4 linked regions of the Homo sapiens genome follow. The protein of the gene in region 2 purifies or fractionates together with the protein of the main gene of each other region. This does not show direct contact. Each region holds a gene or a part of one and is shown on either strand. Other genes may lie near its edges.

The links.
Region 1: the proteins of MET (region 2) and S100A8 purify together in Homo sapiens (affinity purification with mass spectrometry; 2 studies listed by BioGRID and IntAct, with this or other methods). This does not show direct contact.
Region 3: the proteins of MET (region 2) and LRIG1 purify together in Homo sapiens (affinity purification with western blotting; 2 studies listed by BioGRID and IntAct, with this or other methods). This does not show direct contact.
Region 4: the proteins of MET (region 2) and TMPRSS4 purify together in Homo sapiens (affinity purification with mass spectrometry; 2 studies listed by BioGRID). This does not show direct contact.

Annotation. Positions count from the first base shown.
Region 1 is NC_000001.11:153,388,748-153,395,386, reverse strand, and holds S100A8 (protein S100-A8), read left to right. Parts: upstream 1-4,346; intron 4,347-4,410; exon of another isoform or gene 4,411-4,530; intron 4,531-4,812; coding exon of another isoform or gene 4,813-4,851; coding exon 4,852-4,992; intron 4,993-5,143; coding exon 5,144-5,284; 3' UTR 5,285-5,355; downstream 5,356-6,639. UniProt on the Homo sapiens protein: S100A8 is a calcium- and zinc-binding protein which plays a prominent role in the regulation of inflammatory processes and immune response. It can induce neutrophil chemotaxis and adhesion.
Region 2 is NC_000007.14:116,674,509-116,682,739, forward strand, and holds part of MET (hepatocyte growth factor receptor isoform b preproprotein), read left to right. Parts: intron 1-8,231. UniProt on the Homo sapiens protein: Receptor tyrosine kinase that transduces signals from the extracellular matrix into the cytoplasm by binding to hepatocyte growth factor/HGF ligand. Regulates many physiological processes including proliferation, scattering, morphogenesis and survival.
Region 3 is NC_000003.12:66,497,579-66,505,966, reverse strand, and holds the start of LRIG1 (leucine-rich repeats and immunoglobulin-like domains protein 1 isoform 1 precursor), read left to right. Parts: upstream 1-4,944; 5' UTR 4,945-5,559; coding exon 5,560-5,777; intron 5,778-5,912; exon of another isoform or gene 5,913-6,084; intron 6,085-8,388. UniProt on the Homo sapiens protein: Acts as a feedback negative regulator of signaling by receptor tyrosine kinases, through a mechanism that involves enhancement of receptor ubiquitination and accelerated intracellular degradation.
Region 4 is NC_000011.10:118,078,847-118,087,077, forward strand, and holds part of TMPRSS4 (transmembrane protease serine 4), read left to right. Parts: intron 1-7,904; coding exon of another isoform or gene 7,905-7,911; exon of another isoform or gene 7,912-8,117; intron 8,118-8,231. UniProt on the Homo sapiens protein: Plasma membrane-anchored serine protease that directly induces processing of pro-uPA/PLAU into the active form through proteolytic activity.

The sequences.
Region 1 (6,639 bases), on a different chromosome or scaffold from region 2:
TGGGTGGGAGCCAGTCTGCAGGGAATATTGTGTGCTGGGTTTGCACATGCTGAGTCAGACACTGACAGGAGCTGAGCCAACAATCCAGCCTGGCAGAACCACAGACACATGTTAAGGGAAGAGCAATGAGTAGAACCTGGGTGACAGTCAACCCAGGAAGGCTTCCTGAGGGAGAGAAGGGTTGGGTCTGTTTTTTTCTACAACATGATGATGGATGTGAGGGTTACTCCTGACCCAGGGCTATTCATGAACCACTGATCTGAGTCCTCCGGTATCCCTGACCCCACCCACCTGAGACCTGTCCCTGCCCTTGCTCTGTTTCTTTTTCCTTTTCCTCTCCCCTGGGACTCTAGGGATCTAATGCAGAATCCCTTAGGGAGGGTCTCCTCTGCCTTCAGGAAATGCCAGAGCCCACTTTAGAGGGTTGTCTTTTCTGAGGGTTGGTCTGGGAACCGGTGTCCTGAGCTTACTGAGATAGAAATCATGGATTTTGAAAGAGTGTTGGGGGGTGATATACCACCTGCGCACAGGACTGCAGGGTCACTTAAGAAACTTGGTCTGGTTCCCTCCCCACCTGGTCCTTTGCGCCAAACATGGTGGATTGTCCCTGGAGCTGAGCTGGAGACCTTGTTTCTCATCAGTCAGGCTCTGGGGCAGAATTTGCCCCTGCTGCTCCGGGCCTGGCCTGCTGTCCCTCCCACACTTGCCATCAGCTTAGTTTGCCTTTCAGGACCTAGCTGGGCCCTCCATTCCTTGGGAGATGTCTGCACCCCATTCCCCTTTGCATTCTTTCCTGTGGAAGGGCATCTTCTGCCACACTGTGCTTGTTTTGTACTCTCCGCCGAGACAGGACCTCAGTGTCCCCATAAACGCTCAGCAGGTGTTTGGGGAAGGAATGCAGAATTGGGGCCTGTGGGGCTGGAATTGATGACCTAGATCTGTGCTCCTTCCTGCAGGCCCCTGGCTGTGTCTAGAGGCATGAAGACCATCGCCTGAGTTACTTTGGCCACTCTTCTTGCAGGCCCAGGGGAGAAATACCTGTCTCACCTGAGAAGTGCTGGGCTCCACAGGCATTGAGTACGAAGCAGGGGCACCCAGCCTGAGCCCTCCCTGCCCTCTCCTGCCCCCTTCTGGGGGTTTCTTCACCAGCTCTGCCTGCTCTGTCCTCATTTCCTTGGCCTCAGGGATGGACCTGTCAGGTCTGTTGGGACACACCCAGGGACTGAGCCCTTTCCTGTAAACATGACCAGGTTCCGCTCCCTCTAGGTTGCCCCATGTCCGCTAGGCTGCTTACAGCCTCTGCCTTTCCCCAGATGTGCTTACCCAAGTCCTGATACCTTTTGCTGCAAGGTCAGTTCAGCCTGGCTCCTGCTGTCCCCAAAGCACCCAAGGCTGTCCAGGGGCGCAGTTTCTGGGGAGGGGGCGACATTTCACGATCTTGCTGGTCAGCCTGTACATGATGTGGGAAGGAGGTCACCACTCAGGACTCCCTCACTGGACCAGGGGAAGGACCTGAAGTAATGCCCTGTGCCTCAGTTTCCCCATCTGTCAAATAGGGATAATTATACTTGTAATGTCCACATCACTAGGTTGCTGGGAATATCAAATGAGTCAGTGGATGCAAAATACTTTGAAAATATGATATGGTGCTTTGAGGCAGGTGCTGTTATGCTGGTCACATAGGATAGTACGTGGTGAATAATAGGTATTAACCAAGGGTGGATCCTTGGTTGAAAACTTGTCATGTCAGAAATGGCGTTGTTTTCCTAGATGGAGCTTGATTCATCTTTTGTCAAGGAAGTCAGACTGCATTTGTTTGATGAATTTATACCCTGCCTTCTTCCAGAAATGATTTAAGATGGCTGATTGTGATAAAGAGAATTTCTGCCTTGGATAAGGGAAGGGTCAAACTTAATTTTGTATTCATTTATCCCTCAATAAGTATTAATTGAACATGTAGTAGCTGCCAGGCCCTAGGGTTGTGAAAAGAAATGTGATTTCTTTTCTAAATGGTCTCCTGGTCCCAAAGAAAAGACAGACAATAAACAAGTGAATCATAACATAGCAGGGCAAATGCTGTGATGGGTAAGGATTTGGGTAGCATGGAGGAGAGAAGAACTAATTCTGCCTTGATGGGGTGAGGGCAGGTGGATCAGGGATGGACTTGGAGCAGATGATGCCTGAGCTGGATCAGGAATGGTGAGGAGGACATTACAGGGACAAAAGGCATTACAGGCAGGAATAGGAAGTGGATGCTGTCACATCACATCATGAGTCACTCAATCATTTGATACGCTGAATTACTATGTCTCTCTGTGGGGCTTAGTTTCCTCATCTGTACAATGGGCATTATAATAGTACATACGTCATTGGATTAGTGTGAGAATTAAATGATCAATGCAAATAAAGCAGCACTTAGAATAGTTCCCGGACATGGGAAAAGCTCAGTGAGTGTGAACTAGTATTTTGTCATGATTTGCTCTGATCAGTGATTGTGGCTGCTGTTATTGTGTGTGCTGGGCACTGTGCTGGGTCCCCAATGGCTCACATCCAGAGAGAGCTGGATTTATTTTGGAGGGTGAAAGACTCCCTGCTATGTTTATGCAATGGCTCATGCCCTTGTGCAATGCAGAGGGACCCCAAGCAGCCTCCATCTCCCAGGGCACGGTGGATCCCCAGCTTCACAGAACAGGAGAGCTGTGGAGGAGTGTGGGCAGCAGGGTAGGAATGGATTTAGCCCTCGGCAACAACACATGTCCCCACAAAACATTTTCTTCATCCATTCATGTGTTGAGGGACACTTGGGTTGCTTCCACCTTTTGGCTCTTGTAAATAATGCTGCTATGAACATGAATGTACAAACATCTGTTTGAATCCCTGCATTCAATTCTTTTGCATATATACCCAGGAGCAGAATGATGGATCATATGGTAATTCTGTGTTTATTTATTTGAGGAACAAACTTGCCGTTTTCCATAACAGCTGCACTATTTTACATTCCCACTAACAGTGCATTAGGCTTCCAATTCTCTATGCCCTCACCAACACTTGTTTTCTGGGTTTTAAAAGAAGTAGTAGTCATCCTTGTAGGTGTCAGGTGGTATCTCATTGTCGTTTTGCTTCATGTTTTCCTAAAGATTAGTAATTTTCATATGCTTATTGACCATTTGTATATCTTCTTCGGAGAAGTGTCTATTTGAGTCTTTTCCCCAATTTTTGATTGGTTTGTTTGTTTTTTGTTGTTGAGTTGTAGGGATTCTTTTATATTCTGGATATTAATCCCTTATCAGATATTTGTTTTACAAATATTTTCTTTGTAACAACAGAAACACACCACAGTCTTCAAGGTTGGAAGCCAGTTAATCTGAGTAGCATTTTGTTAGTGGTGGGGAGAGGATTTGTTCCTCCTGAAATCCTGGGGAATTGGCCACCTCCTCTTCTCCTCTTAGGCATGAAGCGCGTCTGGCTTCTCCAAAGAACTCTTCCCCTCCACTACCTCAGAGTTAGCTTCCTCTCTTCAGCCAGTGATCCTGGGGTCCCAGACACAATAATTAACCAAGAGAGGGTGAAAGGCTCCCTGCTGTGTTTATGCAATGGCTCAGGCCCTTGTGAAGTGCCGAGGGACCCCAAGCAGCCTCCATCTCCCAGGGCATGGTCCATCCCCAGCTTCACAGAACAGGAAAGCTGTGGAGGAGTGTGGGCAGCAGGGTAGGAATGGATATAGCCCTTGGCAACAACACATTTCCCCACAAAGCACCCACCCAAAAGAACAACAACGATAGTTTTAGTTTTTAGTAATGAGAACAATAGTTCTCATGACTAAAAGCCATCAGCCAGGACACGTGTTCTCAACCCTTTTGCGGTCTTTGGACCCTTTGAAACTCTGACAGAAGCCATGGAGGAATGTTCTCACTGAGTGCATGCACTCAAAATGATGCATTCAACTTCAATTCAGTTTCAGGGATGTATGGCCTGACCACCAATGCAGGGGATTAGCAATCGCAATAGTGGAGAGGGCATGGGAGTGGGAATCTGGCTGGATCAAGCAAGTGGATGCCAGCAGCCCAGAAAAAGAGCCCCCCTACCTGCTTTTTCCTTCTGGGCACTATTGCCCAGCAAATGCCTTCCTCTTTCCGCTTCTCCTACCTCCCCACCCAAAATTTTCATTCTGCACAGTGATTGCCACATTCACCTGGTTGAGAAACCAGAGACTGTAGCAACTCTGGCAGGGAGAAGCTGTCTCTGATGGCCTGAAGCTGTGGGCAGCTGGCCAAGCCTAACCGCTATAAAAAGGAGCTGCCTCTCAGCCCTGCATGTCTCTTGTCAGCTGTCTTTCAGAAGACCTGGTAAGTGGGACTGTCTGGGTTGGCCCCGCACTTTGGGCTTCTCTTGGGGAGGGTCAGGGAAGTGGAGCAGCCTTCCTGAGAGAGGAGAGAGAAAGCTCAGGGAGGTCTGGAGCAAAGATACTCCTGGAGGTGGGGAGTGAGGCAGGGATAAGGAAGGAGAGTATCCTCCAGCACCTTCCAGTGGGTAAGGGCACATTGTCTCCTAGGCTGGACTTTTCTTGAGCAGAGGGTGGGGTGGTAAGGAAAGTCTACGGGCCCCGTGTGTGTGCACATGTCTCTGTGTGAATGGACCCTTCCCCTTCCCACACGTGTATCCCTATCATCCCACCCTTCCCACCAGAGCCATAGCCATCTGCTGGTTTGGTTATTTGGAGAGTGCAGGCCAGGACAAGGCCATCGCTTGGGGCATGAATCCTCTGCGTACTGCCCTGGCCAGATGCAAATTCCCTGCCATGGGATTCCCCAGAAGGTTCTGTTTTTCAGGTGGGGCAAGTCCGTGGGCATCATGTTGACCGAGCTGGAGAAAGCCTTGAACTCTATCATCGACGTCTACCACAAGTACTCCCTGATAAAGGGGAATTTCCATGCCGTCTACAGGGATGACCTGAAGAAATTGCTAGAGACCGAGTGTCCTCAGTATATCAGGGTGAGGAGGGGCTGGGTGTGGCGGGGGCTCTCTGCCTGGTCCTGGGGCTGCCCTGGGCCAGCGGTCCTCCCTGCCACCCTTCATAGATGGCTATGCCTCGGCTCTCTCTGAGATCTTTAAACTCTGGCTTCTTCCTCCTCAATCTTGACAGAAAAAGGGTGCAGACGTCTGGTTCAAAGAGTTGGATATCAACACTGATGGTGCAGTTAACTTCCAGGAGTTCCTCATTCTGGTGATAAAGATGGGCGTGGCAGCCCACAAAAAAAGCCATGAAGAAAGCCACAAAGAGTAGCTGAGTTACTGGGCCCAGAGGCTGGGCCCCTGGACATGTACCTGCAGAATAATAAAGTCATCAATACCTCATGCCTCTCTCTTATGCTTTTGTGGAATGAGGTTCCTCGGTGTGGAGGGAGGGTTGGAAAACCCAAAGGAAGAAAAAGAAATCTATGTTATCCCACCCTACCTCTCACAAGCCTTTCCTGCTTTACCCCTCACCTGGCCTCTGCCCCACATTCCCTTCCAGCCCCTCCATCTTGAGCCATTGGATTTGAGGCTTAAGGATTCCAAAAAGTCCATGACACTATAGCTGATGATTTTACTAGTGGTTCTGAAATGGGTCGGGGATTTGGGAACAGGGTGGTAGTATAAGAACAACTGATACTGTTCTCTAAGCTAAATTTTAGCTTCCAGCTAAATGTCTTAGATGTGGCTCTTGGGAAATTAGAGTGATAGCTACATAGAAGTGTGTGGGTGTGTGTGTGTGTGTCTGTGTGTGTGTGTGTGAGAGAGAGACAGACAGAAAGAGAGCAAGAGAGGGAAGGGGGGAGAGGCTGATTGTGTGTGTGGTGTGATGTAGGTGGACAATGTTCAGAGTCCTCCATTAACAGGATAATCCTCACACCTGTCCACATACCTGTAGTTTGTCCTTGGGGATTTTGAAAATTTTTCCTCCCTCTCCACTCCCAAACTCCCAACTCAATTAAATGATAAAGGAATAGGCAAATAGGAAAATAAATTAGTAAAACTTAAGTCAAAGAATAGGTTATTCATACGCTGCCCTATGGGATTCTATGCTTTGGTGATCAGAAAATTATCTAAAAAATACTTCCCAAGGGCTGGTACAAGGGGAAGGCCAGAAGACGAGTGGTTCTTCTCTGAGGTGGACATTAAAAAAAGAAGAAAATGAAGGGGAACCTTTTGACAAGAATGTCACCCCAAACTGGATTTTCATGCTGTGGTGTGGGGAATTTTCTGTTGTCCTCACTTAGGTGCTGGGGCAGTGGTGTTAGTGATGGGTAAAAAGGTAGGAAGCTGTCACCAGAATCACTAAACCAGGGTTCTTAACTTGTCTGTCTATACATCTCTGAAATTGGGTTGAAGTTGTGTGCATCATTTTGAGTGACGCACTGAGAACATTCCTCCACGGCTTCCATCAGAGTCTCGAAAAGGCCCAACACCTCAAAAAGGTTAAGAACACTTGTCCTGCTTACTGGTTTTTAGTAACAAATGGCAGAGTATTTCTCTCTGTCTCTCTCTCTTTTTTTTTTTTTTTTTTTGAGACACAGGGTCTTGCTCTGTCACGTGGACTAGAGTACAATGGCATGATCATGGCTCACTGTAGCCTCGAACACCTGGGCTCAAGTAATC
Region 2 (8,231 bases):
GAAGTAGCATTAGTCATATTATCCTTCTGCAGATCTACATAATAGTCTCAAATTAACTTTTTCTCAAATGTGGTCATCTCAAAACAACGTGAATAACTCAGAGGAGCTAACATCCTCTAACTGGCTTATTTTCTCCAAGTGGCTGCACCAAAGACATGGCAACACCCCCATGGTGAGCACAGTTCCTCACACATTCAGATTACCTCCCATTTCTCTGTCCTCTTCCTCCTCAACCCTTTCCCTTGGTTTGGTCAGAGCTGCTTTCAAGGCCTTCCGTGCCCCCATTTCTCCAGCCCAGTTTGCTCGTTTCTTCTTTAGGCATTAGGCTTAGTGATTCTCGCCAGAGCCATCTACGCTTTCTTTTCCGTGGTCTAAATCCCTAAGATTTCCTTGGTCTGCTGTGTTTATTCATAGGATACTCAATTTCCTCATTGTGCCCTCTTAAGGGGAGAAAATGTATGTAGAAACTCAAGTGTCCGGAAGTGAGCCTTCTTTTCCTGGCTGGTGTATGCTGAAACTAGTGTTTTTGACACCAAGCCCTTAGGGCAGAGTTTCTTCATGGGTTTTGCTCAGTGCAAAATAAATAGTCACTTCTCAGTAATAAATGATAGATACACTGACTAATGTTAGTTCAGAATCACTTTGATGATGTGTTCTCAACTGACACTGAGTTGCTGCTAGATCCACATTTGCCTGACCAAAAATAGCTAGGACCTATAGGTAGAGTATCATATGTGCTAGGTACTACAGCATTTTCTTTAAAAGAAAGAAATGGAATCTGCCCTTGAGAAGTTTATGATCTAGATACACAGACAAATATCACATATTAAATGAACACAAATTCATAATTATTAAGAGGACATCACATGAGAAACGCTTTCAAAATCATCCTATTTGCTATGAAATAATAGAATTTTTTTTTAAAAATCAAAGTTTGGAACTTAAAAACCTTAACATTTTCAAGCTGTTTCTGCATACATCACCTTTCTGATACCAAAACGACCTTACAAGATAGGCAAGTCTGATAACATCTTAACATTCTTATGTTATAGACAAGGAAACTGAGCTTGAGACTAGCTCCATGCTATTTCAATAGCACCATACCACCTTTCCTCAGCCATCAACTATTGGAAACATTTTCCATGGAGGCATCATTAGGGATGCTTAAGATAGTGGTAAATGATGAATATAACATATCTAGTCCCTGGAGTTTTTGTCACCTTCTCTTTCTCCAGTTCTCTCTCTCTTTTTTTTTTTTAATTTCTTTTCTTTTCTTTTTTTCTTTTCTTTGTAGTGAGACATACCGAGAAAAGGTTTCATTCATATGTGTGGGGCATTCTGCTCCTGTTATCAGATTAAGAGCCGTGAATAATTTTGTAATCTATCCTTCTATCAGAAAGCCCATTCTCAGATATCTTTTCAGCTGTGTTAAACAGGTTAGTATATTCCGCTTGGGATTTGTTTCAATAAAAACATCCAGTAAAATCTGACTACTTTGCTTTTCATGGGACAAAATGAAAAAAGTGCTTTTATAAGCTGTAAAACTTAATTGAGAGAAAAAATCACGTGTGGCATTTGTAGCAGGAGGTATGAGCTCAGTGAAATAAAAAAGTTAACTTTGTAATCACATACCCAGGTACACATATTTCTCTCTGTGATTGCATAAATGTGTGCAAGTATGTTTATGTAGGTTACTCCCATTGATTTTAATTTCTATAATAAATTATGTAGCTATAGGGCCCACAGGCGATTATATAATGGGCAATAGAATTTGAAAATGTATCTCTCCTAATATAATTAAGGATAGCAATTATGAAATGTGCTTAGAGAATCACAAGTTATCGTGAAAGCCAGGTTCCTGTACTCCAAGAATGTGAATGAGGATTTAGTCATTCATTCAGGACAATTTTTTGACAACCTACGAGGCATAGTTCTAAAATCTGGCATTTCCACAGAGTATAAAACAGATGAAAACCTCTAACCTCATGACACTCTGTTCTATTGAGTTGGCAAACAATAAAGAAATACATAACTGAAATGTGTTGTATGTCAGGTGATGATAATAGCTTCAAGGTAGAATAAAATGGAAAAGAGAATAGTGACTGTCAAGGATAAGAGAGAGTGGGATGGTGATTGAAAAACTCAATAGTGAGGTCAGGGAAGGCTTGTCTTCAAAGGTGGGCTTTGGGCTAGAATCTGAAGGAGATAAGGAAGTGAGCCAGGCGCATATGAGGAGCACTTCTCAGGAGTGCTATTCTCATCTTGTTTTTCCTGAAATTGTGCAGTTCACAGCTTGCACAACTGTCCATAGACTCCCTGATTTTGGAGGGAGATACCTGAATAGTGCCCCTGTTTTTGTAGGGAAATACCTGGACAGTGCCTGCCATCATTAGCTACCATGTTAAAGATGAAGATACAGGAGTGGCCCACATCTCTTGGTTTATGAGACATGGAAGAAGAAGACCCAGAGTGTTGTTTTGTTTTTTTTTTTGTTTTTTTGTTTTGTTTTGTTTTGTTTTGTTTTGCATCCGCCTGGTCCCATCCCATACTCCATCCTCTATCAGAGATATTGCTCCATTCAGACAATTTTCCTTCTTATTTTCCACACTGTGAGCCTGTCACAGTGGGATTTGTTGAGAAGGATACCCATGGCTTTTTTCACTGATCCCTTCCATAGTATAAATCTAAAGACAGCAAGAGGCAGTTGCTGATGGTGTGCAGCTTCTGTCTGCTATGCACTTCTTTCTTTCCCCCTCGCTCTCCTTCCTTTTCCTTTCCAGTATTAAGTCACTGCATTGGATTTTCTTCCTCTTTTCTTCCTTTTCCCTTATTCCCCTATTTATATCCTGTATCAAGATTTGCAAACAGGTAACTTAAATGAGGAAAACTAACCATTTCACTAGGGATTGACAAACTGCTTAGGAAAAGCAGAGGGGCAGTCACTGCTTGGCGTGATTAGAGCTGTTGTGAGGCTCAGTGTATGGCATGGGCCCATGTGGTAGTATCTTTCAGATTTTCAAGAGAAGCTAGGACTCTCCCAATTTTAAAATGTTGACTCAGTGTCTTTAAAACACCATACAGCTTACAGTGGCAGAAAGTCTGCAAGCCAGATTGGGCTCCTGATGGTCCCAATTGCAGCAGCATGCATGGCCCGAGAGCCCCAGGACTGCTTCTACAAAATATTTTATTTTCTAAAATTCTCAGAAAATTAACTAAACAAATTTTTTAAAACCAATATTTTATGTCAGTTCCTATTGGCACGTGGTTATTTTTCTAAACTCATCAGCCCACATACTTTACATCAAACTATGTACGTTTCTAAACTAAAGGGTAATCTAGTTATTTCATTCTTAAACTGAAGTAGTAGTTTTCTGAAACCTGAATCCATCATGGCTTTATGCATCAATTTCATTTCCAAGTTCTCTGATTCAGGATAAACTCCCCCTTTGGAATATTGTCTTTCTCTCTCTCTCTCTCTGTCTCTCTCTCTCTCTGTCTCTGTCTCTGGAAATGACTGAACTTCACCCGTTGTTATTACCCTGCCATTGAAATTCAAAACATGCACTGCCCTCCTGGTTTCCAGTGCCCTTTAAAAGCAATCAGATCAGTGTTAAAATCTATTTTTCCAAAGGAATAAAAGCTCACAGGTTGTGCACTAATTTGTTTCCTTTAATCCTAAAATCTCAGTGAAATGCCCAAGCTAGCAGCCCTCCAGAAGGCCACTGTGTTAGAAAGGGAGATTATGTACTGTATTTCTTCCTACTATTTTAAATGCAAATATAATAATATATCATGAAACAGTGCACATACAGTATACATATTAAGATCAGTGGTCTATTCCTGTTTTGAAATGGTCTCCTACTCCTTAATAGTTGGAATTCTGAGGCAGCACCTAGACTCTCAGGTCCAATTTGAAAATGTATGTTTTTTTTTAAAAAAGAATGACTTGGGGAATAACTGTTTGATAAGACCGTGGAAGATTTCTAATTTTTAATATTTTATTAAAAATGTAAAGAAAGACATTCAAAGCTGAGACCTTTGAAATAATATGGTCTTTGCAAGTCAGAGAAAAAGAGAAGTGGTAAATTTATTAGAGATAGGTTGCCTCCTTTGAGGCCTAATCATGTGGGAAAGGAAAACCCAGCCAAGGTTTGGGTCCATAAGACAATTCAACCTAGCTTTAAAAATAGGTTTTGGCTTTGCTTGGGACCAGCATTGGGACCAGAGTGTATCTAGACCAGCATTTTAGCTATTAAATTTTAAACCTAGGGGTCTTTTAAGGGAAATTTAATCCATGTGTCTTTGATTCACTAAATCTTAAATCATTACTCACAAACTGTATGTCCCTCTAAGCTCTTTGATGTCCAAGAGATCTCTAAAATTGTGTAAGGCCTTTTTGTTCCAGAAAAAAATAGGAAGTTGGTTTTTGCTAAGCGTCAATAAACAGCATCCTCAAAAATCTGATTAGGTCTAAAATCTTGCAACCATGACAGTATGGATGTTTGAATGATGCAATGTGAAAATTTTAAGCACTTTTTAAAGTCCTTGTTTACCAGTAATACTCAGTTGTAATCCTTACTAACCCCAAGGAAATTATTTTGACACATTTCCTCTCTGTTTTGTAATATAAATACAAAGCCCAAATATTCATCATTTTATTCTGGCACATAGTAGGTACTCAGTAAGTATTTTGTAGAGTGTTGAATGACTCTTTCTTCTGCCCAGAAACTTCTAGCTAATGTCAGTTCTTCTATTCAATATTGATATCCATCTGTCATACCTTGGAATAAGATCTATTCTAAGTCAGTGACCTTGTTCGACAAATTTTTAAAATAAGCCATCTAACTAAATATATGACATTTATTGAAATTCATTTTGCACCATGAAGCAACTGCCTTGCAAAGAGTGCTGAAAATAGGAAGGAATTTCTAGACTAATTTGATTAAATATTCAGTTGTTGCCATATGCTTTCTGAAAATTGATTTTCCCCCTTTTACTATTCCTGTCATCCTTCCTCCCACCTTGACATGCTTACTGATTGAAAGCTATGCACAGAAAAAGGGCAGGTCGCTTGTATGTATAAGCAAGAGCAGCAAGTCCAAACAGGCTTAGAAAACGTAATGCTATAATCACGAGTTGTCATAATATAGGAGAGGGGAGAGAGGAATACTCAGCAATAAGAGTGGTGTTGGGTATTGCTCCAAATTACATGGATGACACATCTTTGAACTCTATTGTGTCGGGGGAAAACACCTTCTTGCTGTAGTTAGATTTCCTGTTTGTGAATGTGTATTTTCTGGTAACCAGACTTCCTATATGAATTTGACATAGCTTTAAGTGCATTTCAAATGACATGATTAAAGAATGGCTGCTTTGGAGACAGCAGCTCCTTCTCTCTTAAAGAAATAAACTATCATGCTAAAATATAGGCATTGAGATCTTTCTTGATACCATATTGTGAATTTCTAATGGCTCATCACATTTTTATCCTCAGAAAACCTTTCCTGGTGAAAAGCATGCTGTTTTAGTATCACATTTGGGGTGATGGAATTGGCAATTTCTTATATCTTGAGGGGGCGGGGGGGTAAAAGGAAAATTGTGTTAATAGGGTCTTAAAATAGAGATTCTCTTAGGTTAACCTGAAGATTTACTAAATACATTATCATTACAGCTTGTTTTGACATTTAATTGTAGATGGCACTGTATCAGCACTGACTTATTTATACAGCTTTGTTTAGACATGCCTAATTTTTATTTCATTGGTGGAACCAAACCATCAGTAATAAATCATATATCAGTGTTTTTGTACACATTCGTATTTACATGACTTTTAAAATTCCAATGTAAAGGTCTCACAACTTGAAAAATGAATGAATGCCTGAGTATTTGAACAGTTGGGAAAATGTAGTTCAATTTAAGAAAGATTTTTTATGACAATTCTTATGCCATATATAGAAAATAGATAATAAAGGAGAAGGCCTGGAGGTTTAGATGGGATATTGGATCAATGAGCAAAGGAAGGGGAAAGGTGGGCGGGATATGCTGAAGGGTCATGGGCTTGAGTGCACCCTAAGTCATAAAGAGGGTGTCCCATTAAGAATCAGGCTGCCTGAATTCTAAGTAGGAAAGAGGCAGGTCAAAATGGTGTATAGGCCAGGCACAGTGGCTCACGCTTGTAATCCCAGCACTTTAGGAGGCCAAGGTGGGTGGATGGCTTGAGCTCAGGAGTTTGAGACCAGCCTGGGCAACATAGCAAAACCCCCCTCTTAAAAAAATTACAAAAAGTAGCTGGACATGGTGGCGCACACTTGCAGTCCCAGCTACTCAGGAGGCTGAGGTGGGAGGATCACCTGAGCCTGGGAGGCCAAGGCTGTAGTGAGCCGAGATCATACCACTGCACTCCAGCATGGGTGACAAAGAGAGACCCTGTCTCAGAAAAAGTGGGGGAGGGAGGGTATGGAATAAAGTAAAGCTCATGGGAAAATGGTACCTTTACCATTTTCCCACCTTGGGAAATGGTGGGAAAATTTAGACATTGCTTTACAAAGTCTAAATTTCTGCCAACTTGTGTTACATGTGGTTTGATTCTGGAGAAAGATAGACTATCATCTATCCAGTCCTAAATTGGGCCTCTTAGTCTGTCCTCCCCTCAGTTACCAGGAAGAATAGCAGGAATATGTCACAGAAGCAGAGAAAGCTTTTATTCTGAGTGTCAGAGGCATGTTCTAAGCACTCTGTTATCTACTCCCAGGCACTCTAAATGAAATTCCATTTTCTCTGAGGAAATCAAAATATAAAAAGAAAACTCAGGCAAATTTATAAAGGTTTTACACCATTTTCATGACTGAAATATTCTAGCATATCTAGCTCATTATAATCTATAAATTCCTGTTGGGACCAAAAGTTATGGCCCTAAAACCTGTTATCTGTAATCCTTTTCCACTGGGATATTGTCTCTGGGGATATATATTAGCTTTCCTTGAGGATACTACCTTGAAACCATTTCTTTGGTCCTTGACTATACAAAGTTCATACTAGCATGGATGTAGGAATTGTATTTTTCTATTCTAAATACGAATTTAGACAGTGATATAAAGATTCAAGGAAAGCTTCTATCAAGGCCTGCCTTCACTACTTGTCTTTTGGCTCCTCTGAGGGTCTTAGGTGAGCCACTTTCATCTGATTCTGCCCTCACTTCAGGCAGAATTCATATGGCTCCAGCCAATGGCTACACTGTCCAAAGTGAGACTGTGGTCTCACAACCATCTGGTTAATACAAAGACAGCAAGCCAATATGATCACTTAGGACCTAGGCAAACCTTTGGGCTTAAAATATTACCTTAGCTATTGTTGTTTTTAATGAGTATCAAATAGTATGATATTTGTAATTTGTATTATGTAAAGAAGTAACCAAAGCAGAGATTGTTGACAAAAAAAAAAACTTCCTCCTAACATAAATGAATATGCATTTTGGACTTTTCAAAAATTCCCTTTCTGTCTTGTCAAAATTAAGATATTTCTAAATTTTATTTCGGTCTCACTAACACATACTTGGATTATTGTTCATTGAAATCTGTACGTCAAGGCCCAGTGATTTTAAACATTCTTTTGGTCTTCAAAGAACTTACCAAAAAAAAATTGTTCTTTAAATCACCAGAAAAGTGCAGATAAAATCCCAGACAGTTTCATTAATGACAATGAAAGGTGACAGCCCTTGAATCTATGTCATAAGTTGATTAATTACTTTCCAAACATTATTAAAGATATTAGACGAATAACTTAGACTGGTATCCAGGATCAAGGTTCCTTCATAATCCCTAAATGGGTTTTAATTTTCAGAGTTAGATGATCATTATATGTGATTTATTTCTTTAACATCTTTAGACTGTTGGCTTTATTGAAAAGAGAGGAGAGTATCTGTTTCAATGTGTTTTCTTTTCCCTGAAGTTATTCCTTGCAGAATTCAATAAAACCGGTTTTGAAATAAAAATAATTAAATGCTGGCATTTTCTGTTAATAAGGGCCCATAGACCTGATGAATTATATAAACATTACAAGGAATTTACCACTGAGTTCATAATTATGTAACCATTTAATGCCCAAACCTGCCTACTGACAGTGAAGACGTTCAATGAGAATGGACATTGTGCATTAGGATAAGGATGACCTGGAGTGAACTTTCATTCTTGTTTTGGTTCTTTCCCATTTTGCCCAATTCATAGCACCTGATT
Region 3 (8,388 bases), on a different chromosome or scaffold from region 2:
GAGCCACCGTGCCCAGCCCAAAATAGATCTTTGGTGTCCACAGAACTGGTTTGGAATCTTGGCCCTGTCACTTATTAGCTTGTGTGGCCTTAAACGTTTTTCTTAGCTCCTACCTCACTGAAAAAAGTACATAAAGCACTCAACAACATGAAAGACATATAAAAAGTGCTCCGTAAATGATAGCTGTTGTTATGATGTGACAGTGCTTTGAAAAATGTAAGGTATATGACTTCATAAGATTATTATTATGTTATGATCAATGTGCTGTTCTTTATATACATTGCAGTGTTAGTTCTGAGTGGTTGGCAGTGAGGCATAAACTTTGAATCCTCCCTGCACTCGCCCTCATGTACTTCTCGGAGTGACATTTGCAAAGGCAGCAGATTGGGAGTGAGAGGTGCGGTCTCTGGTGATGATGTAATTAGTCCATCCCATCATCATCACCGTCAGAGGTAAGGGACTGCCTCCTACAATGACCATTACTCCAGAATCTCAATCTCAGAATTATGAAATGCTCATACCTTTGACATATTTTTTTTCATCCTTTCAGTGAACCAGTAAACATTTCACATTCACAAGGCAAGGACAAGTGTCAAGGTTCTAGTTTGTGTTAGAAAGTGGACTCTAAAGGTTTTTGGCCCCTGTCGATGGTGCTCTGTGGAGGAGGGCAGATCCTGTGAAGGGTCACAGCTGAGCTGCAGGCAACAACCATTCTTGCTGTGGAACTGCAGCAGCTGCAGCTTGGCACTGTCTGGGCATTAACCAATATTCCAATAGCCAGAGATTGCACAAGAAAACTACCTCCACCAAAGGCAAATGTTGGAATGGGGGATGGGGAGATCTCAAAATCTTTCTCTTTTTATATTCTATTCCCAGACTCATTAGCCTCCTCTCTTACCTTCTCCACCCATCCATCTCCTTGACAAGATTATTGCGACGAAGGAGTTAATGAGTACACAGTTTTATTTTCCTTGGAAGAGAGATAGAAAACAGGCTCAAAGCAGGGCTGTCATCACCCTGCAAGTCTTCAGGGGTTTCATAGCTAATTATTAACCCTTTGTCACATTCCTGGACAAGAAACTTTCCTGCTGAAACAACCTGCTAAGATTTTCCATCTACATTATACATATGGGCTCTCAGTTTTTCAGAGTTAACAAATCAATAACACCTTGAAAACAATGAGATGTAAACAGTTTATAATGCCCCTTTGGTCCTTTATCAAAATGATCCTTCTTTACTCACTCAGCACCCAGGTCAAGTACCATTATCCTTGTTTTCTATTTTTCTTTTATATATATATTTTTTTTGAGATGGAGTTTTGCTCTTGTCACCCAGGCTGGAGTGCAATGGTGCGATCTCGACTCACTGCAACCTCCGCCTCCCGGGTTCAAGCGATTCTCCTGCCTTAGCCTCCCAAGTAGCTGGGACTATAGGTGTGTGCCACCATACCCGGCTAATTTTTGTATTTTTAGTAGAGATGAGGTTTCACCATGTTGGCCAGGCTGGTCTTGAACTCCTGATCTCAGGTGATCCCCCCACCTCGGCCTCCCAAAGTGCTGGGATCACAGGCGTGAGCCACCGTGCCCAGCCCCTTGTTTTCTATTTGAGAAAACTGAGGCTCCAAGACAGAAAATGACTGGTCAAAGGTTTCACCCATAACAAGGCCTGGCTGGAACCCAGCTCTCCTGAATGGTGACCTGGTGCTTTTTTAATGTATTGAACACAGTGTAAAATCTCACCTAACATTAAGAAAGCCCCTCTGAATCTCAGCATTCTTTAAAACCACTAAAGACCACCACCTAGAACTATAGCAAACTGGCACAAATTCAGTCCCCAGGAAGTTGTGTTAAAAAAAAAAATTCCTATGGTTAACCTTCTTTCTTGTTATTTTGTTATTTGCTTCTCTCCCCAATAGATTTCAGGCTATTTAGATTTTGGGTTCCTCTCTCAAGCATGATTAACTTAGGATGATTAACTGCTAGGGCTTCTGGAGTCAAGAGAGACCTGCAGAGATTCTCACTGGGGTTTGATTCCATGCTATCCCTGGGGTAGATGAAAATGAACTGGAAAATCTAAAATCCCCGGATGACTCATTTAAGGAATAAGCATTTAGAAAGATCAAAGTTGCAGTGTGAGGAAAATAAGGACCTACAGCACCCAAATCAACTGTTGCTCTGTGCTGAATGGACCAAGACTTGCACTTTTATGAGCAGAGACATAGATTCCCTTAGACATTTGCTGTTGTTGTTGTTGAGATCTCCTTCATCTTAGGTGGTGGCTGCAGATGAATTCCCCCCTGAGCTGGATATCACTGCTCTCCAAGTTCACACTCTCATTGCAATCACAAGCAGGTTGCTAGTATGTGGGCAAACTTCCATACATGGTATGGGGAGCAGACATGACTTCATGCTTTGCTGTAGACGAGAGGAACTGCCAAGGCTTAGGCGCCCTGTCCCCCCAAGTGTGCCCCGGCTTTGGAATCCTTTTCTCTGGCTGCATGGTAACCAGACCACAAGGGATGCTTTAGATTTGTGGGCACTCCCTCACCTTGCAGATTCTTAAATTCTATCCTCCAGAAAACTAAGATTCCAAAAAGGCATCTCACAAGTACACCCATACACATTTGAAAAAACATTTTACAAGAATTACCCACTTTTATAGTACTAGAAATGAGACAAACCTGAAAGATAATTTTAGGTCAGCATCTCAAGTAGTTCAATCAGTTCAATTCATTTTTTGCTGCATATGCTGTTTTATTGTGGGGTGGGGACAGGGAGGATCTGACAGTTTCATTTCAGGAAACGGCTGTGGGTATTCTGCATCAAATTACTGTTTTGTGTTCTTTGTGTAAAACTTAAACACTGACTGAGAGGACTTCATAAATTTAGGGTCTTTTTAATTCCATTCCCACTGCTTATTATTATTATATTTACCAAAAGGGATAGAACAAAAGGACATATTTCTTCTCGTCCAGATGGAAGGTGTATGTTTATTTGGATTACATATGAAACATAAAAGCTGGTTAAAGCTCTGGGTGGGATGGGTCAGGTGCAGCATTTTTCTGATAATATTTCTTGGGAATTAGATTTGAATTGATTTACCCACATATTTGAGCACTGCTTTGGGCATCACTGCTGAGATCATGCAAAATTAAACAAGAAAAAAATGAGGCGCAATGAATTCAGAAGGGGAAGAAGGAAAAAGGGGAGGAAGGGATAGGAAGATCACATTTTGGCTAAAGAAAAGAGGTGATCTTATGGCTGAGGGAAAGTTTAACACATTTAGTGCATCTCAATTAAAGCAAACCTCTTAGATTGTGTCGAAAATGGAATAAACCCTTTAATTTTTTTTTTTTTTTTGCCTTTTTTCCCTAAGGTTCAACTTCTCCTCTTTACCTCCCACCCCACCCCACTTCCATAAAACACAACTCAGATTTAATGTTCTGGAGCAAATGTTTTTCAACAGACTTGACCTGCTTAATCTTCCTGACAATGTGCGCAGTTATGTTAGTAATTTGCATACTCTTGGGAAGGGATATGAGACACTAGCAAACCAAAACGCCCAGAGGGCAGCTATATGTTACAGTGGTAATCTTTTTCTTTTTTTCTCAATGTGTGTATGTCTGCTTAATGTTACCACGTACTATCGTAACACACTACTACTATGGTCTGATCTTTAAGAGCAAAAGTTAGAAGCTTTGTTAACTATTATTTCTCCTTTAACTCTGTCTCTTACGAATACACAATGGCTTCTTGAAAATTATCTTAAAAAGACTCTGATTAAAACAAAAACCCAATGACAACAACAAAGCAACCCCTTTATCAAAGGCTGCAGCATTTCTAGAAGTACCCTTCAACTCACTAGCTGGGAAGGAGAGTGCACTTTTTTTTTTTTTTGAGACGGAGTTTCGCTCTGTCACCCAGGCTGGAATTCAGTGACAATTCAGTGACAAGTCTCTGCTCATTGCAGCCTCCGCCTCCGGGGTTCAAGCAGCTCTCCTGTCCCAGCCTCCCGTAGCTGGTATTACAGGTGTGCACCACCACACCTGGCTAATTTTTTTATTTTTCATTTTTAGTACAGACGGGGTTTTACCATGTTGGCCAGGCTGGTCTCGAATTCCTGACCTCAGGTGATCCGCCCGCCTTGGCCTGCCAAACTGCTGGGATTACAGGCGTGAGCCACCACTCCTGGCCGAGGGTGCACCTTTGAGACTAGGTTTCTGCAGCACACATTCATTTTAGTAATCAAGGACATATTGCTGGATTTAGGACGTGAAGAACAAGTCAGGAGCAGATGCTCCAGGCTGCTCGAGGAGGAAGGGGACCACGCCTAATGAAATAACCAAGGATGTCCCAGTCAGGAAGAAATGTGTTAAGTTTTAAACCTGTGTCTTCGCTTTTGGAAGGAACCTGGAAAACGGACGCGGGTTTGCTTCTAATCTGCAGTCCTGCTTGCAGCCTGAGGAGGACGTAAAAAGCCTTGGGGCCAGACAGCCCCAAAACGGGGGCGTTTTACCCTCTTAACTTTCTCTCCCCTTCTTGACGCAGAGGGCGTATCTTCACGCCTCCTTTCCCCAGCCCGCGTTCCCGTTCTCCAACAACAACCTGCGTGTCTCCTTTAAGAGGCGGGGGCCGTCCCTCCCTTTCTCCTCCCAGTCTCCCGCCCTTCACACCTTGGGTGGGAAAAGAGTGTGGGGGCGGGGTAGCCGGTGAAGCGGGAGGGGCGGGATCACAGCGAGCGCTCCAATGGCCCTCGAGGCTGGCCACGGTGGACTCCGGCAGCCAATGAGCAGCAGGCGGGGAGGCGTGGCGGGGCGCTGTTGCAAAGCATCCAACGTGGGCCAGCAGGCGGCCGCGGAGCGCGGAGCCTAGGGGGTGTGTGCGGGCGAGCGGCCGGGGGCGGGGCTTGGGGGACCGGCCGGGGCTGGGCCGCGGGGAGGCGAACAGCAAGCGGCTGATTGTTCGGCTGCGAGGTCGGCGGGACTCTTGCTGCGCGGAGGAGCCGTGCGGAACCCGAGGCTGCGCGCGCGCGCGCGCTCTCTGGCCGCGGCGTGGGGACAGCGAGGCGCACTGGGGCCTCCCAGCGCGGGGCCGGCCGCGCCGTCCAGCCCGAGGTCTACGGCTTTGCGCTCCGAGCCCAGAGGAAGATGCCTGCCGGCACCGAGCTCGGGCTGCGGGGCTGAACGCCTGTCTTCCAGGCGCAGCGGCAGCACTGCCCTCGGCCGGTGTCGGTAGCGGCACTCGGCGTGCCCCGGGCGGACGAAGAGCGCAGGCTGGGTACACCTTGCCCGAATCGGCGGAGTTCGCAGCTAGCGCGGGCGGGCCGGCCGGCCCGGATGGGCGCGGGGTTTGCGGCCCCCGCCGGGTGCTCCGGAGCGGCCCGGGCACCGGGGGCACGCTGAGTGCCGGAGCCGCGGCCGCAGAGAGAACTTGGGGCGGGGGCCATGCCCCGGTGCGGAGTCTAGAGCCGAGCGGAGCGCCCCGCGGGCCCGCCCGCGTCTGCGGCCGTTCGGGTCCTCACAGTCCCCGCGCCCGGAGTTCGCAGCGCGCTCCAGACAAGATGGCGCGGCCGGTCCGGGGAGGGCTCGGGGCCCCGCGCCGCTCGCCTTGCCTTCTCCTTCTCTGGCTGCTTTTGCTTCGGCTGGAGCCGGTGACCGCCGCGGCCGGCCCGCGGGCGCCCTGCGCGGCCGCCTGCACTTGCGCTGGGGACTCGCTGGACTGCGGTGGGCGCGGGCTGGCTGCGTTGCCCGGGGACCTGCCCTCCTGGACGCGGAGCCTGTGAGTGCCGCCCTTTCCGCCCTCTCTGCGCCCCGGGGCTCTGTCACTTGGGGATGGAGCGGCGGGGGTTCGTACTCAGGGAGGGGGTGCGGACTGGGTTGTGTGTGTGGAGTTGTGCGTGCTTGTGCGTGTTGGAAGACTGTCAGGTTGGAGTGGCGGAAGGGAGATTCTGCGTGGAGGTCCGGGGGAGTAGGCGTGCGAGAGAGCCTGGAGAAGAAGAGCGTGCCTCGTGGGGTCTGGAGACGAGCGAGCGTGGGTCGTAGAGATTTGGGGGTTAGCCAGCACGCGTCGTGCGGGCCATCTGGGGGTGAGTGAGTGGGAGTCTGGAGCTGAGTGTGTTTGCGGGTGGGTGGGTGGGAAACGTCTGGAGAAGAGTGTGAAGAAGTCTGTGGGGGTATGTGGGTGCGTTTCCTTTTCCTCTCCTGTAATCCAACTATTTGGTGTCTGAGCTCCTTGGTCTTCCAGTGGGTAATGAATGAAGGTGACTGTTGGGTCCAGTCTTTCGTTTACATTATTTATTAGTTGATAGTGTGTGTAGCCGTCTCCTGATCCCCGAAGACCGTGGTGGCCTGACTTGCCTCTCTGTGCGGGGCAGAAGGCAGTCTTCCCCCGAGGACCCCTGAGTTAGAGGGCTTTGACAGTTCCTGGCGACCTGTGAGTGCTGGGAGTTTGTCCTTTTACGCCTGTTTGGCATTTTACGGAACTGTGTTCCAGACCCTTCCTGTGTGTTCCCTGGGGCCCCATTGGGCTTGATGATCCAGTGGGGTGGGGCCCACCCTCAAGACTCTCTCCTCCATAAATGGTGCAAATGAGTTTTGGAGAAGTGCTGCTTCAGGAGAGGGTGCCAGGGGCTTGGCTGATTTAAGCTGTTTGTTTCACCCGAAAGAGGTTCTTTTCTGTGCTGTCAGGATGTGGGCTTATTAGGACTTAGTGGGACACTTCTTACAGGAGATTTGACAGGAAAAAAAAGGCATTAGACTTCTGTGTAAACATGGTAGAATAGAATAGTCTTCTTTTACTTCTAACAAATCTGGTGCATGAGTCAAATCCCGTTCAGTTATGGGTAATTAGCATCTCTGTAGAACCATTAGTACCTTTCCAGAAAAGGCCTAGCTTAAATAGTCCGCATTTCGGTTGAATAATTGGACATTTTTCCTAGAACATAGGAAAGGCACAGCAGTAACCTTAGGCATGACTATGGCTGTTTTAAAAAGAGAAAACTGGTGTCACAAGTTGTAACCAGCACCTGTGGCTTGATCGAAGAAAATGTGGCCTGTGTTCTGACTACCGTGAAGGGAAGAAAAGTTAATTCCTTTTAAATGTAAAGATCCTGTACCTCTCAAAATGGGGCACGAATCTTTAACTTGGCCCGAGACACTGCTCCATGAACAAGTACTACAGAGTTCTGAAGACAACCAGGAACCCTTTAGTTACAGTTAGGTTTTCAATATCTACTTCTTCTGTGGAATTTACTGAGTTAGTGAAAATCAGTGGTCGTAGGGTGGAGGCAGAGCTTTTGTGAAGTACTGGGAGATAGAGCCCAGTATTGTCCTTAGGTAGTCTCTTATTTAGTCTGGGGTATTGTGATTTTTCCCTTACATACGGTAGTTTTTTTTTTTTTTTTTAAATAGAATCATGTGGGCAAAATCAGATTAACTTCTTAAGTGTTCACCTGTTGGAAGAGTGACTCCCAATGCCATGTGTCAGTGGCATTGTGGGGAAAGCACTTAGTTCCACAGAAGTAACTTCCCAGAGAGGGCAGGGTGTCCTCTTATTTGCACTTTCCTATGGTCACAAGATCCACTTTGCCTTGCCCTTTAATTTTTGGAGCAAAACATACTGGTTATTTCTTTAGGCTTTCTGTTGCCTAGGAGTGACATTTCACATGGCATAAATACCTTCAAAATTGAAGTCCTTCTCTTTTACTCACACATTTGATGATCGAGAAATACCAAAGTGGGTATTTTGAGCATCAGTAGACTTTAGTATACTGATTATGGTGTTGACTGATTCGATTTTAAGATATGAGCAGCATGATTTCTGGTTAGTATGTAGCAACACAGTATGCAGTGCAAAATGGCTATCCTTTGAAAAATATTTGTGAAGTTTTCTTATTTCTGATTAAGGACAAATCAAGCAAATGTGTTCTTTTTTTCTAGACTTCAGACTTCTGAATTTAAATCATTAGTCTCCGTGAGTCTTATTCTGGAATTTCCATAAGAGTATTTATATGGTTTGTATTCCTGGCTAAGATTCAGCAAGACTTTAGGGGAGAAAGTGTCTGTATATGATATAATGAAATATCTTGTAGTTTCACCAAGTTTACACGCTCTAAGCCCACGGTGTCTAGAAAATGCTTTGAGCTAGTTTATAAACCCATGAACTGGATTTACTGCAGCTAGTTCAAACAACTTCAGGCTGTGGGTTTGAGATAGCAGAGGACCTGTGGCTTTATGGGACCTTTTTTTTTTTTTTTTTTTTTTTTGTAAACAGTGCGTCTGATGTGGAAGTTGCTTCTAGGCCTGATATAAGAAAAATAAAACTTTTAAATAGTGAATGTAAATGCAGTGTGAATAGAAGAAACAGAATGGATAATGATAATCGGTTCATT
Region 4 (8,231 bases), on a different chromosome or scaffold from region 2:
TATGACCCACAACAGCCCCACGCACATGCACCGGGTTCGCAGAGATTACACAGCTAATACATGTGAGTAGGTTCTGGAAACCATGAAGCCCCGCACAGATGTAAGGACTTAGGACTAAAGAGGAGTCTGTGCTAGGAAATGACAGCTGGGTAGTACACCCAACACAGACCCTTTGCCACCAGGGAAGGAGCTGGGCATTGCTGGAGGAGCGGGGGAGGGCAGGTGGGAACACTGGTGGAGGGGTCAGGTCAGGCCTGGGGCCCCAAAGGCAAGGCAGCAGCATGGCCAATCTCCACGGTGTGGTCAAGGAAGTTTCTAGCCCCGGAGCTAGCCATTATACTGCCTGTGCTGAATAACCCTGTCATTAAGCCTGTGCTTAATAACCCTTGACAGCCATAGCTCCCAGCCCTGAGGGGAGGATGGGATCTCCACACCCAGGCTCAGCCCTCCCTTCCCTTCCCTTCCATTCCCTACCTCCTTCCATCCCCACAGGCCCCTTTCTGTGACAGTCAGGGTCCTTTGAGCTGCTGCGTCTTAATGACAGCTCTCCCAAGAACCCATTAAGCTGGGTATTCCTAGGGAGAGCTGGAGCAGGGACTCAGGCCCAGGCAGAGGTCAGAGCCCAAGCCCTGTCCCCGAAGGAAATGTGTCCCATGCTAACTACTCCATAGCTGAGGCCTGGAGGGAAGTCAGGGACCCTGGGACTGGTTATCCTGGCCTTGACTCATTACTGTTCCGGAGACCTAAACGCACCCTGAGCCACCAGACGTGGGTGTTAACACCTGAGGTCAACCCCCTGACGCTTCCGGCTGCTCTGGAGGAAGCTGGTCCTCCCTCCCACCTCCTGTTTTCCGTGCCAGCCTGGTACAGAGTCAAGGGGCTTGGCTGGGCTTGGCTGGGCTCAGAAACGTGGCAGTCAGGAGCCAGCCTGCGGGCAGCGGGGTGCTGGGAGCACTGCAGGGTCCACCCTGACTGGGGCACAGAATCCAGAAGCCCACTCGGCCCTGGCAGTGCCATCCTAGGCTCTGAGGTGGTAAACTGAGCTGGGCAGTGGGAAGGTCCTAAAGGGCAAGACAGGCAAGGAGGGGCTGCTTGCTTTGCCTGCTCTCCTGGATCCTTTGCCACCTGGGTGACAGGGCCTGGTGTCACTGTAACCACTCCCCCCCCACCAAAAGAAGCTCCAGCCAGACACCATTTAATCAGCCCCTTTCATTGGCCAGCCTCTAAATGGGGCTGGGGATTGGGAGGACCCAATACCTAGGTTTCACCCTGCAGGTGCTCAACACAGAGTGTGACAAGTATAACACCAGCAGTGGTTACAAGGTACCCCTGGAGCTGAAAAAGCAATAGATTCTCTCTAGGGAAGTCGGGAAATTGTCCTGGAAGAGAAACTATTTGCATTGGACTCTGAAGGATGGGCAGGCTCTCTCCAGGCAGGGAAAGCAGGAAGGAGCTCCAGACACAGGGGACTGCATGTGTGAACAGCAAGAAAGAGTGGTAGTATAGGGACAACAGGCTCTCGCTGTGGCTGGAGCAAAGACTCCGGCACTCCAGGTCATGGGAGCTGCACCTGCCGAGGTGGAAGCTGCATCCCCAGGCCCTGTCCATCTCCCAGGGCGCTTCCAGCCTGACCCTGGGGGTCAAGCTCTGTGCCTGGGTGCTTCCCTGGAGAAGGGGTTCAGATGTCAGGGCTCCTGCGTGACCCCAGGCCTCTCTCCTCCTCTCAGTCTTCCCTCAGTGCAGCTGAGAACCCAGCAGCCACCTCCCTAGCCCAGACCCATGCCAAAGCCCAAGAGATCTGAGGAGCTGAATGTAAGAAATGAGGAGAGACCAGCTCAAGGGGGTCATGGGTAGAGGGAGAGATGAGAAAAACAGACCCAAAACAGAGCTGGGGAACTGCCGACAAGCTTCCCAAAGCCCCAGAAACGCCCCAGGGCAGCAGGAGACAAATGCTTTCAGGCCTGAAAATCTCCACGGCCTCAGACTTCCCAGGTGCCTCTTCTGCCCTCAGTCTTCCTTCCTGCTCAGGTGAAAACATCAGCCTCAGTAAAACGCTTCAAGTTCCCAAGCAAGGATTCCCTGGGACAGTGAACTCCTCCAAACCTAAAGTGCAATCATCTACCACATTTTCTTTTAAACCTGTTGCCACCAGAATGGGAGCTTCTTGAGGACAGGGTCTGTGTCTTTTCTGCTTTTAGCCGCAAACCTAGCACAGGGCATGGCATCCATGGCATGGACTAGGCACTTAGTAAATGTGAATGAATGAATGAGTGGATTGATGGATGACAGGTAAATAATCAAAGACAGAATCCCCTATAACCAATTTCTGATTTATCTGACACTGAAAACAAGGCTCACCCGAAGTCCAATTGGAAAACATACCAGATCTATCTGAGGGGTTACTAAAGTGTTTTTATCCCAGAGGGGGATGGGCATGAGGGAGGCACAGGTCTGAGCCTGCCCGGAAACCCTGGTGATAGGGAAGGGGAAGAGTGGGGCAGAGCCAATGTGGCAATCCCCCTGTGACACGTCTAACGCCACCTCCCAGCCTGCCACTCTGACTAACCAGCACGTCGGCAGCTGAGAAATGTGTAAACAAGATGGAAAACCGCAACAGTCCTCCCCTGCCCGTGGCCCCCAGAGCACCCTCCAGCTTCCTCGCATAATCCACGTGCAACCAGAAACTCTCGAAGGGTAGCAGATGAAAGGAACACTTGAGGAAGAGGGTGAGAGACATGATGGCCCCTGTCCAGGCGTGCGCACCTGTCCAGGGGTGGCAGTCGCGTCTCCTGTCACAAAATGTCCTGCACATCAGTCTGGCTGGGCGTCGCCCGCTGGTGCGGTTGAGCCAACCAATGCTTTCAGCATATCCTGCTGTCTCAGTTTCTTCCTCTAAATCTGTATGCATTCATTCATTCATTCATTCAGCATGTGTTCCCTGAGCATCTACTATGTGCTAGGTACTGGCAAGATACCATGGAAGATTCAGAGAATATGTAAAATCTAGGCCTTCAGTTTTGTGCACTCCATAGATGGAACAGGAGCAGGGGAGACTGCTTTCCCACACTCCAGACAAAGCCTGACACTCACTCACTCACTGATGTCCACAAGAAGGGGCTAAACATAGAGCCAAGGTCAGCCCCCTCACCTTCATCCCATCTCCACCCTGACATCACTCACGATCACATCTCCAGTCTCCAGAGAGGAGGGTCTTGCCAGGCTGCTGGGAGAACCTGTCCGGACACGTAGGAGTCACTGGTGGTCTTAAAGAGAATAATAGCTACAGCGGCAGTATCACATCTCTATCCAAATGCAACAAGGGCCCCATGTTGTGCTTTGAGAAGCACTTTCACATCCAAAATCTCCCTTCAGTCTAATACAACTCTCTGAGACATTGTAATCCTCATTCTACAGATGAAGAAATTGAGGCTCAGCCGGGTGTGGTGGCTCATGCCTGTAATCCCAGCACTTTGGGAGGCCTAGGTGGGCGGATCACCTGAGGTCAGAAGTTCAAGACCAGCCTGGCCAACATGGTGAAACCCCATCTCTACTAAAGATATAAACATTAGCCGAGCGCAGTAGCTCACGCCTGTAATCCCAGCGACTCGGGAAGCTGAGGCATGAGAATCGCTTGAACCCAGGAGGCAGAGGTTGCAGTAAGCCGAGATCACACCACTGCACTCCAGCCTGGGCAATAGAGTGAGACTCGGTCTCAAAAAAAAAGAAAGAAAGAAAGAAATTGAGGCTCAAAGAGGTTCATGACTTGAAAAGGGTCATTCAGCCAAGGGCAAAGGGAAAACCAGTAGCTATAATTAACTTAGACTTTCAAGAAGACTAAACTAAAGTTTCATACCCAATGCTGCTCAGGGAAAAAAAAACCCAAATTACCAGGAGACCATTAACGATAGAAAATTGATTTAAAGAGAGAATATTATAAGTGGATCAGGCCTAGGACTAATCCTATCTGTGGGAGGAGACAAGAGAAATTTCAGGCTGAGAGTGAGCTCTTCAGAATCACAGACCCTAAGGAAAAACCTTAGAGGTCTTCTCGGCGAGTGGGTTCCCCAAGCGTACTTTGACCTCAGAGCCTTTAGCTCCACTGAAATCAAATGCAGAATCCTCGTATGGGACACAGAGAGAAAAACAGAGCTGCAGTGTTTGAAAGGACTGTCCCCCACCCCCGCCACTTCTGCCCTGCCTCCCTCTCCTCTGCTGCGCCGCTGCGGGGCTCGGTCGAATCCCCCAGGGGTGCTCAGAGCCCTTATCTGACCCTGGCCCTCGTCTGCCACAGAAACCTTCACAATCCAGCTTTTGCTCACACATCTGTTTCTAGAAGCTACGGTTGCTGAAAACAATCTTTCCTTTGCCAGGAGAAAAGACTTTCTGTAACTTCCCCCGTTCCTCCTAGAACTGTCTTTTGCCTTTCTCAGACGGCCACACACACTTGAAGCTTTCATGCTTCCACTGGTCCTTGCTTCTCTGAACTGCGTGTTCCACCCTCTCTTCCGAGAGAGTTCACACAGGTCACACGACATCACCTCCGGTCCCAACTGCCCTGGTCACTGTCCCCAGATGCGCTTAGTCCACAGAGTCCCCTGCTGAAGCCAAGCCCCGGGGCCCATGAAATCATAAAAGTCGCTCTTTGCTCAGTTCCTATTACATACATGACAGGCCCTCTATGAAGCTCCTTCCCATTAACAATAAATAATTTTTGACTATGAGTATCTACTATGTCATGAACTTCCCAAGTTCTATTTTAATATTGTTATTAATAACTAATAAAAATAATAGAATATACTCCATGGGCAAAAGAGCTTTACCTCTGGTTCACTGCTAGGTCTCCAGGGCCCAGAAAGTTGCCTTACTAAATGAGTAAACTATTATTGTTGTTGTTATTATTATTACAGTTAACAATTACTGTACTCTTGGCTGGGTGCAGTGGCTCACACCTGTAATCCCGCTTTGGGAGGCCGAAAAGGGCAGATCACATGAGGTCAGGAGTTCAAGACCAGCCTGGCCAACATGGTGAAAGTACAAAAAATTAGCTGGGCGGTGGTGGCAGACGCCTGTAATCCCAGCTACTCTGGAGGCTGAGCCAGGAGAATCGCTTTTACCTGGGAGGTGGTGGTTGCAGTGAGCCGAGACAGCGCCACTGCACTCCAGCCTGGGCAACAGAGCGAGACTCCATCTCAAAAACAAAACAAAAAAACAATTATCGTACTCTTACCGTGCACCAGGCAATGTACTATATGCTATGCATATCTGGGGCTCCTTAGGAGGGAGACTTACTGCATCTCTCTTTCTCTCTCTCCCTCTTTTTCACACACACATGAAACTGAGTTTCTTGGTGGTTCAATAACTTGCTAAAGCCTCAGGCCAATGAGCAAACAGGATTCAGACCTAGGCTGCAGGATTCCACGGCCTGTGCTCTGTGCACTGTAAAACACAACCTCTCCTAGCAAATGTAATTTCAGCAAGGAAAAACTTCATGAAGCACTCGACGAGTTATGTGAGTGGGCAGGAAAGCAGTAAAGGAACTTCAGGTTATGCAACTGCAAAGTCAGAGAGGCAGAGAAGACACTGAAGCACTATTAAAGCACTATTTATAGGATCCTGAGCTCAGAGTTCACAGGAAACAGATCTAGGAGTCACTGAAACCTGTGCCAGGAGATTGGCTGCAGCAGCCACACCAGCCCAGCAAGGCTGGTTATCACTGGGGCCTCCAGAACAAACGAGAATCCTCAACCCTGCCCCTGTACAGAACCACAGCACAGACCCTCCTTGAACATGTGTGGAGTTCTGCTCTCCATGCCTGTAGGGTAATTGGGGCAGAGAGCACTAATTTTCACTTACTAAACTCCTCTATGTTTCAAGCACCAAGCCAGGCACATCACATGTGTCATCAATAATTCTCACCAACAACCCTGTGAATTAAGTCATATTCTCCCCATTTTACAGATGAGAAAACTGAGACTCAGAAAAATTTATTAACTTGCTCAAGACTTCATGGCTGGGAAGAGGCAGAGCTGGATTCAGGCCAGTGTCCCTGCCTCAGAGTTCAGGAGGAGCAGGATCAAGGGACAACCCCCTTCTGATCAAGGCAGCTGAGACCCCTCAAACTGCAAAGACCAACCTAGGGGACTATGAGCAAGTCTGTAAAATCATGCAAAGACCAGATGGGGCTCCTGGGGGCTTGCAAAGGTGCTGAAAATGTGCACGGTGCTGAGCAGGTGGCGCACCTTACAGAATCTTTCTCCCCATCATCTTGTGAAGTCGCTTTTATTGTACCCACATTCCAAAGAAGGAAACTGGGTCCAGGAGCTGTTTAGTGACTTGCTCAAAAGTTGTTCTACAGATGGAGGAGTCAGATCTTCTTCTTCTTTTTTTTTTTTTTTGAGACAGAGTCTAACACTGTTGCCCTGGCTGGAGTACAGTGGCAGGATCTTGGCTCACTGCAACCTCCGCCTCCCAGGTTCAAGCGATTCTCCTGCCTCAGCCTCCCGAGTAGCTGGGATTACAGGCACCTGCCACCACGCCCAGCTAATTTTTTGTATTTTTAGTAGAGATGGGGTTTCACTATGTTGGCCAGGCTGGTCTCAAACTCCTGGCTGGAGTCAGTCCCAATCAGTTCCTTTTCCCTCCCTGCCATTTCCCTCCCTCTTAAAGTTTAAAGGACAACTCAGGACAAGCAAAAGTGAGTACGATTCTTGAAAGATGGTATAAACTCTGTCTTTGAACCTTTTTAAATTAACGTCAGACTGCTCCATGGATGGCAGGTCCTCAGTTCAGGTAAATTGCAAGGTTGAGAGAACCCCTCTAAGCTTTAAAATCCATCAGCCCTTCCCAATGGCAAACCCATGAGGGTCCCTGCCAGGCTGAAAGGCTGAACTGTGTGGCGGGACCCCTTCTGGCCCTCTCGAGTCCCCTCCAGCCATTGTCCAGGCATTGTCCTCAGGTGTGCAAAGATGGTGGCACCTTCCTTCCTATCAGACCCTTCCAGGAGGGGAAGGTGGGCTCAGATGGACCCACCACTCTGGAACAGAGGGAAAGCTGAGCAAAGTAGAGCTGTTGAGAGTTCAGAAAGGTGGGAGAGAATGGGCTGCTTCCCCTAGGACAAAGAGAAGGATCGCAGAGGGATTCCTAAGCACTGCAGTAAACAGCAGCATCACCTGGAAGCAGGGCCCTCCAGTGGGAACCAGGTCTGTCTTCAGTTTAATTTAGCCCAAGGGGCATGTACAAATACCTCACTCCTGCCCTTCACATTGTCTCTGGGGAAAAAGCATAAGCGCTGTGCCTCAGTTTCTCCATTTGTGAAATAGGAATAGTTACATCTTCCCTGCCTCCCCAGCCCTATCTGAACCTAAGAGCTATGCCCGAACACAAAAGCTGATTCTTAAATGATGGGAGCTGAACAGCAGGCTGGCAGGGGATAATGGCAGGCTGCCTGACTCCTCCCTTCTGCCCCAGGCCCTGCCCTGGAGCCATTATGTGCTGAGATGGGGGATGAGGTGCTCGGCTCAAATTGCCAATAGGTCAGCACCTATGTGGTTTAGAACAAGGCAAAATGGTTTCTAATGTAGCAGCCAAGGCTGAGGTTAGACCCAAAGGAAAAAGTGCTGCTCTAATAATGACTCAACGCAAGGCAGTGTTTGTGAGGATGCTCCCTGAATTTCTGCGTGAGAGCTTAGATGCCCAGCGGCATATGGCCTGGGCTGGTGGCCGACCTGCCTAGAGACAGAGTAACAGGTGCGATCCCAGGATACTTGGAAGTCGGCATGATCAGTCATCTCTGAGGACCTCCCATGCACTCTGGGCTGCTGCATCACCACCAGGCTCATCTCAGGAAACTCACTCCCTCCTCTCCTGCCCCATGATCTTCCAGCCCTCAGTGACCCTCTCCTTACCTGTCATGGCTGAGACATCCAAGAGAGAGAGCCCTGTTGCCAGCGCAGCAAAGGCATCAAACTGCCTATTCCAGCTGCAAGTGGAGAGGACACAGCTGCTTGCCGTTGGTTTTGGGGAGGGATGCAGGTTCTGGGGTCAGAGAGCAGAGTGAGGCTCCCTCAGAGGAGCACTGTGGCCGGGCCCCACTCTGCAAGCTGACGGCAAGCACCTCTGGGTCTCTTGGCTTACCCGAAGAACTTTCCCCACCCCCTCCCTTGGGTTTTCCCCACTGCTTATTACTGGCCTCAGCAACCTAACTGCCACCTGCCCAAGCCTCAAAGGACCTG